Homo sapiens: one gene and its partner. The protein of the gene in region 1 purifies or fractionates together with the protein of each later gene. This does not show direct contact. Each region holds a gene or a part of one and is shown on either strand. Other genes may lie near its edges.

The links. The genes of interacting proteins can lie anywhere in the genome.
Region 2: the proteins of SLC45A1 (region 1) and SLCO4C1 purify together in Homo sapiens (affinity purification with mass spectrometry; one large-scale study listed by BioGRID and IntAct). This does not show direct contact.

The regions. Positions count from the first base shown.
Region 1 is NC_000001.11:8,338,614-8,342,113, forward strand, and holds part of SLC45A1 (proton-associated sugar transporter A), read left to right. Parts: intron 1-879; coding exon 880-1,085; intron 1,086-3,500. UniProt on the Homo sapiens protein: Proton-associated glucose transporter in the brain.
Region 2 is NC_000005.10:102,247,785-102,251,284, forward strand, and holds part of SLCO4C1 (solute carrier organic anion transporter family member 4C1), read right to left. Parts: intron 2,005-3,500; coding exon 1,854-2,004; intron 1-1,853. UniProt on the Homo sapiens protein: Mediates the transport of organic anions such as steroids (estrone 3-sulfate, chenodeoxycholate, glycocholate) and thyroid hormones (3,3',5-triiodo-L-thyronine (T3), L-thyroxine (T4)), in the kidney.

The DNA of each region.
Region 1 (3,500 bases):
GGCCCAGCGGTCTCTGTTGCAGCCCCTCACCGAAAGCCACAGACACGGGAAACCGAGTGGGCGTGCCAAGCGCCAATCAAACCGCACTGTGTTCGCTGAAATACGAGTTTCATGTGATTTTCACGTGTCACAAAATATTCATCTTTTTTTGGTTTTTTAAATTAATTTTTTTTTTAAATTTACAAAACTAGGCTGCAGGCTGGACTTCGCCTTCGATCCATAATCTGCCAACTGCTTTATTTTAGTTGCCCCCATCTTTGTGGGTTCAAGCCCCAAAGTAGAGGGTCACTGAGGGGCTGCGGCAAGAAGAAATTTGTCAGATCTCACTTGTGAGTCCATGGGGTGGCACCTCGGGTGTTGGGTTCCCCCATAGCCATGTGGCCTTGGGGCGTGGGGAACTGGCCCCATTTTATCTGATTCTAGGGAGCCCCGTCGCTGACATCCATGCTGTCACATCATCTTGGGGGTGTAAAGATGGTGGCTGGCTACGGGATGGGCTGCTGTTGTACCCACAATTACACAAGAACACAGAGGTTTAACTCGAGACCCTCAGTCCCTGAGCCCCTTTGGTGTCACAGCCCCAAGACCCCTCCACCTGCAGAAGCCCTGGGGGACCTGGCCCGGGCCAGTGTGAACAGGACACCCTGGTCCTGCCATCTATCCAGACAGCCCTGTCCTGGGCACCCACCAGAATTACTGGGGTGGTCTCTCAGCTCCCCTGGGTTCCCCAGGAAGTACTTTCTGGTCTGGGGCAAGTGACCTGCCAAGCCGGGTCCCACCACTGCTAGCTTCAGGTCAGCCGCCGGGAGGTGGCACTGGAAGCTGAATCCCCGGAGGCTCTGGCCGTGTGGCACTGCTCACCCTCTCTGTGGCCCGCAGCTATCCTGGAGAAGCTGGAGGAGTTCCTCAGCGTCCGCACCCTCTACTTCATCGCCTATCTCGCCTTCGGCCTGGGGACCGGGCTTGCCACCCTCTCCAGGAACCTCTACGTGGTCCTGTCGCTCTGCATAACCTACGGGATTTTATTTTCCACCCTGTGCACCTTGCCTTACTCGCTGCTCTGCGATTACTATCAGAGTAAGAAGGTAAGTGCTCTCCCTTGTCTTGCTTCGGGTCTGCTTCTTGGAGAAACCCCACCTGAGAACTGTCCCCCAGGACCAGCTGCACAATCTGCAGAGCCCGGTGCAAAATGTCAAGACAGCGACCACAGAGCATGAAACCAAGGGGGGCCCTTCTGAGTCTGGGGCGTGCCCCCTGCCTGTAATCCCCTCATTGCTTCATTAGCAGAAGCCTCCAGCCCACCCAGGCTCTGGGTCAGGCTCTGTCCTTCCCAGGGATGTGGGGAATGGGAGGCTGCCCCTTCCTACTCCATTGTCAGGCCACCGGGTCTCCTGTTGATGCCTGTCCCAGCCATTCAGGGTGGGGCTTATGGGGAGGCAGTGAAGCTCGGAAAACTCAGCAATCCAGATCGATAACATGTTAATGCAGTATTTTTAAAAATCAGAATTCTTGCCAAAAATCCATGGAGAACAAAAACATCTTTCTTTCTTTCTTTTTTTTTTTTTTTGAGATGGAGTCTTGCTCTGATGCCTGTGCTGGAGTGTAGTGGTGCGATCTCGGCTCACTGCAACCTCCGCCTCCCGGGTTCAAGTGGTCCTCCTGCCTCAGCCTCCCGAGTAACTGGGACTACAGGCACGCACCACCATGCCCAGCTAATTTTTTGTATTTTTAGTAGAGACGGGGTTTCACCATGTTGGTCAGGCTGGTCTCAATCTCTTGACCTCATGATCCGCCCGCCTCAGCCTCCCAAAGTGCTGGGATTACAGGCGTGAGCCACCGCACCCAGCCCAAAATTTTAAATAAAGAGAGGATCAGTTCACCATGTACTAGGGGTTCTGATAGCCAGCTCAGCTCCTGATCCTTTTTCTGTGGGAACTTCAGTTCTGTCCTTGAATCCTGACTAGACGTTTCTTGCCCTCTGGTCTCAGATTTCTCTTGGCTTTTATTCCTTGATCCACCTGCCGGTTTTATCACCTCCCCTTGTTCCTCATGGCTTCCCATCAACCGTGGGTATTAGGTGACAGTGTAATTTATTAGATGTTGGTTTTGCCCAAATACTGGGCATGGCTTAATAACAACGAAACCATTTCATTATTTGGACAGGCCTGAGTACCTTATCAAGCAGATTAAAAGGATATGGTACCCGTCCTTTAGAAAAGGACAGCTGAAATCTCGTTACGGATTATGGATTTAGCATAAAGAAAAATAATCAGGCATAAATTAAGAGTAAGAGAGGGGTCCGGGCGTGGTGGCTCACACCTGTAGTCCCAGGTACTTAGGAGGCTGAGGTGGGTGGATCACGAGGTCAGGAGATTGAGACCATCCTGGCTAACACAGTGAAACCCCATCTCTACTAAAAATACAAAAGATTAGCTGGGCATGGTGGCGCGTGCCTCTAGTCCCAGCTACTCGGGAGGCTGAGGCAGGAGAATCGCTTGAATCTGGGAGGCGGAGGTTGCAGTGAGCCGAGATGGCGAGATGGTGCCACCGCACTCCAGCCTGGGCGACAGAGCAAGACTCCGTTTCAAAAAAAAAAAAAAAAAGAGTAAGAGGGACAATGAATAGAAATTTCACTTCACAGCCGGGTGCGGTGGCTCACGCCTGTAATCTCAGCACTTTGGGAGGCTGAGGCGGGCGGATTACCTGAGGTCAGGAGTTCAAGACCAGCCTGGCCAACATGGTGAAACCCCATCTCTACTAAAAATACAAAAATTAGCCAGGCGTGGTGGCGGACGCCTATAGTCCCAGCTACACGGGAGGCTGAGGCAGGAGAATGGCGTGAATCTGGGAGGCGGAGCTTGCAGTGAGCCAAGATCGCACCACTGCACTCCAGCCTGGGCGACAGAGCGAGACTCCGTCTCAAAAAAAAAGATAGTAATACTTTGAAAAAAAAAAAAAAAGGATCAGTAACAGTGCTGAGCCACCTCATATTGGAGTCTGAGGCAAAAGGAAAAATGGCATTTAAAAGGCCAAACGCAGTAGCTCACGCCCGTAATCCCAGCACTTTGGGAGGCCGAGGCAGATGGATCACTTGAGGTCAAGAGTTCAAGATCAGCCTGGCCAACATGACGAAACCATGTCTACTAAAATACAAAAATTAGCCAGGCATGGTGGCCCGTGCCCATAATTCCAGCTACTTGGGAGGCTGAAGCAGGAGAATGGCTTGAACCTGGGAGGCGGAGGTTGCACTGAGCCAAGATTGCACCACTGCACTCCAGCCTGGGTGACAGTGGCTATGTAAATAAATAAATAGGCCGGGTGCGGTGGCTCACGCCTGTAATCCCAGCACTTTGGGAGGCCAAGGAGGGTGGATCACGAGGTCAGGAGATCGAGACCATCCTGGCTAACACAGTGAAGCCCCTTCTCTACTAAAAATACAAAAAATTAGCCGGGCGTGGTGGCGGGCGCCTGTAGTCCCAGCTACTCTGGAGGCTGAGGCA
Region 2 (3,500 bases), on another chromosome or scaffold:
ATCTCAACTCCATCCTTCCATATCCTTTATCCTTACTATAAATCTTTTTTAGACATTAAGGCCTCAACGAATCAGAGCAGAGCCAGAGAAATCAAAGAGAAGCAGTGCTTTCATTGTTCCAAAGGCCAGAAACTTTTTTTTTTTTTTTTTTTTTTTTGGTGCTAAAGCCATTCTAAGACCACTGGTACCAATTCAGGAAAACCAAATATGCAGATGACACCTCCAAAATTGACTATTACATATTCAGCAATCAGATATATCAAATAATGAGGTAATTCAGCCTTTAAAAATTTTAAGGAGAGAAACTGAGAACAGTATTTTCTATCCTAATGAAACTTTACCACTCTCATTTGCCTGCAATATAGCAGTTAGTCAAGGTCAGATTTTGTAGTTTGGGTCACTGGTGTGAAATATAAGATTAAAACTGTATTGCTGTGAACAAATGTATATGGGTGCTTATTAAAAGTATTATAAATGTATATTGCCTATCTGAAATATTTCATAAGAAAAATATTGTGGATCAATTGATTATTTCATGGACTGATTGGACATAAAAAAGTCAGGACAAATAGAAAATTTGCAAGTCAAAATCATTTGCTCTTCCTAAAAAATTCTAGAAGACAACTTGCTGTGTAAGATAGTAATTATCTTAGCATTTGGTGAAAAATATAAATATTAAATTAACCATATCGAAATAACAAAAACTATTTTAAGTATGCTCTGGGTATTAGATTTTCTGTGTTGTTCCCTTGTGCAGGATGGTATTTGTGTCTATATATATTTAGTTATGTGACTAAAACCCTTCCTAATAACTCCTTGTCATAATCTGCTTCTAATCAAAGTTAGTCAATAGCATTTATTGGTCATATATACAGAAAAAAATTCAAATATTCAAAATTGTCATATAACTCTTACACATCTTATTCATTGTTTTCTTTTATACCACAGTATATATTTCCCTTAGATCCTTTTAAAGTTATCACATTATCTACCAATGCATACTATACTGCGTACTACTCATAATCTGAATATTATTTATTTCCAAGGTTCTTAAGTTTAGCTAAGATGAAATATTTAGTTTCTAAGATATAGTACAGTAAAATTGTACTGAGTTCTTTTAAACTATTTAACTGTACAGAAAAGAAATAACATCTAGGCACACTGATTAGTATTCAGATCCAGAATTAAATATGAATTTGTATTTAAAAATAAATTGATTTGAATATTTTAAGTGTATTCATGGTATATCAAATAAAACAAATACTAAGTTTCTATTATATAAACTGTACCTAGTGAAAATAGGAAAACTCTCTTGCCTTCAAAGATCTTAAATAGTTAGGGAAAAATAAAATTGACCCTTGAACAACACAGGTTTGAACTGCACTGCTCCACTTACATGCGGATTTTTTTTTTCAGCTAAACATGGATCAAAAATACAGTATTCGCAGGATGCAAAACCCATATATACTGAGGTGCTGACTTAAAGCGAGTTCTTCAAGGCCATCGGCAGGACTTAAGTATGGCATATTTGGGTATATGCAGGGGTCCGGGAACCCATCCCCCATGTATTGTGAGGGATGACTATAAAACAATTTGAAAAGGTAAAAGATATTTCATAACTGCAACAAAGTGATGTTACTAAAATGTTTGTAACTTCCAAATTGATTTTTCAACAATAACTGCAAGAGGCATGAAGGAAAAAGAATCTATTTCAGCTGGAGACATCATGGGCTGCTTAACGGAGGCAATGGAGCAGGAAGGCAAGAATAGGCATTGCATAACCCCATTAGAGAAGTCAAGATAATCCACAAACATATTGCCTCATTAAGGGAAAAGTAGGAGACATAAGCTACCTTTGGCTTCCTGTGTGCAACTGGGTTTGAACAGCCTGCAAAGCAGGGAGAAAAATATTGGACTCCATCTCCACAGACAGGATAATAATATGATCGCGAACAGTTACAATTGGCATTACAAGGGGCTATCAAGTTTCCCAATTCTCCAGTCCTGTAAATAAGAAATGAAAGAAGGGTAAATGATCTGTCATAACTTTTAACTAACAATTTCGAAGCACTGTTATATCTTACCATTAGGTCATTTATTCACTCACTCAACACATAATTACTAAACAAATAAAACGTCTTCCTTTGCACATAAAGTTTAACTTCTTGTCGGAGAGAGGCAATAAAAACAATAGTCATATAGTATAGTATCTGTCAGTAATTTAAAATAAAAGGCAGAATAAGTGAAGAAGACAAGAGTTTCCCATCTGGCACCAGGTAATTCTCTTGTGGGGTTGGTTCTATGGACTATAGAATGTTTAGCAGCTTCTCTGACTTCCACCAGATACCAGTAGCACTCTCCTTCATTACAGCAACCAAAATATCTCCATACAGTGCCAAATATGTCCAGGATGCAGACAATATTTTAAACTTGGAAGGATGAACAAAATCATGCTGTTGAACATAATCATCTCATCAATGGGAAAACTGAGGTCCAGGGAGATTAAGTTACTTTTCTTTCCTTACCAAATATAATTTTCCCAGTCCCCAGGCTCAGTGTCATTGCAAGCTGCCTCTTAGAGAAAACATCTTCCCTAATATAAAGGGTTACACTAATCAAAAATGCATCCCTTATACCTCATTTATTTATTCATTCAAACAACATATATTGAGCAACTGCTAGACCCTATGCTGGGTAACGGGAATACAAAGCCGAATAAGACAGTCTCTGCCCTCAAGGATTTCACAGTTTAGAAGTAGAGAGGGACTTAGATAATTATTCAGTAATATGCTAAGTGTGGTTACAGATATCAGCAAAGTGCCTTTTAGAAGCACCAAGGAAGGACACCTAACACAAGCCAAAGTTTAGAGAAAAGGGGCTGGAGGAGCTACTGCCTGAGATGCGATTTAAAAAATGAGTAAGAGGCTGGTGCGGTGGCTTACACCTGTAATCCCAGCACTTTGGGATGCCAAAGCGGGTGGATCACTTGAGGTCAGGAATTTGAGACCAGCCTGGCCAACATGATGAAACTCATCTCTACTAAAAATACAAAAATTAGCTGGGCATGGTGGCAGGCACCTGTAGTCCCAGTTCTCGGGAGGCTGAGGCAGGAGAATCTCTTGAACCCACGAGGCAGACGTTTCAATGAGCCAAGATTGCGCCACTGCACTCCAGCCTGGGCAACAGAGTGAGACTCCATACAAAAAAAATCGTAAAAAATATATAAAGAATGAGTACAAGTAAGCCAGTCAAATGGGGAAGGGGAAACGTACTTCAGAAAAAGCTGGTACAAAGGCATAGGGTAGAGAAACAGCATCCTCTGTGGAGAAATATGAATGATGTCTGAGGCACAGAGTGATGGGAAATGTAGCTGGACAGGAGTAAAGGACCAGTTTAATTGAGAGCCACATGGGCCTGACAAAAGGTAATCGTTAAGGTATTTTTAGAATGGAAAGTGACACTGTCAAAAGTTCGTTTTAAAGAAGTAATTCTAGGAGTTG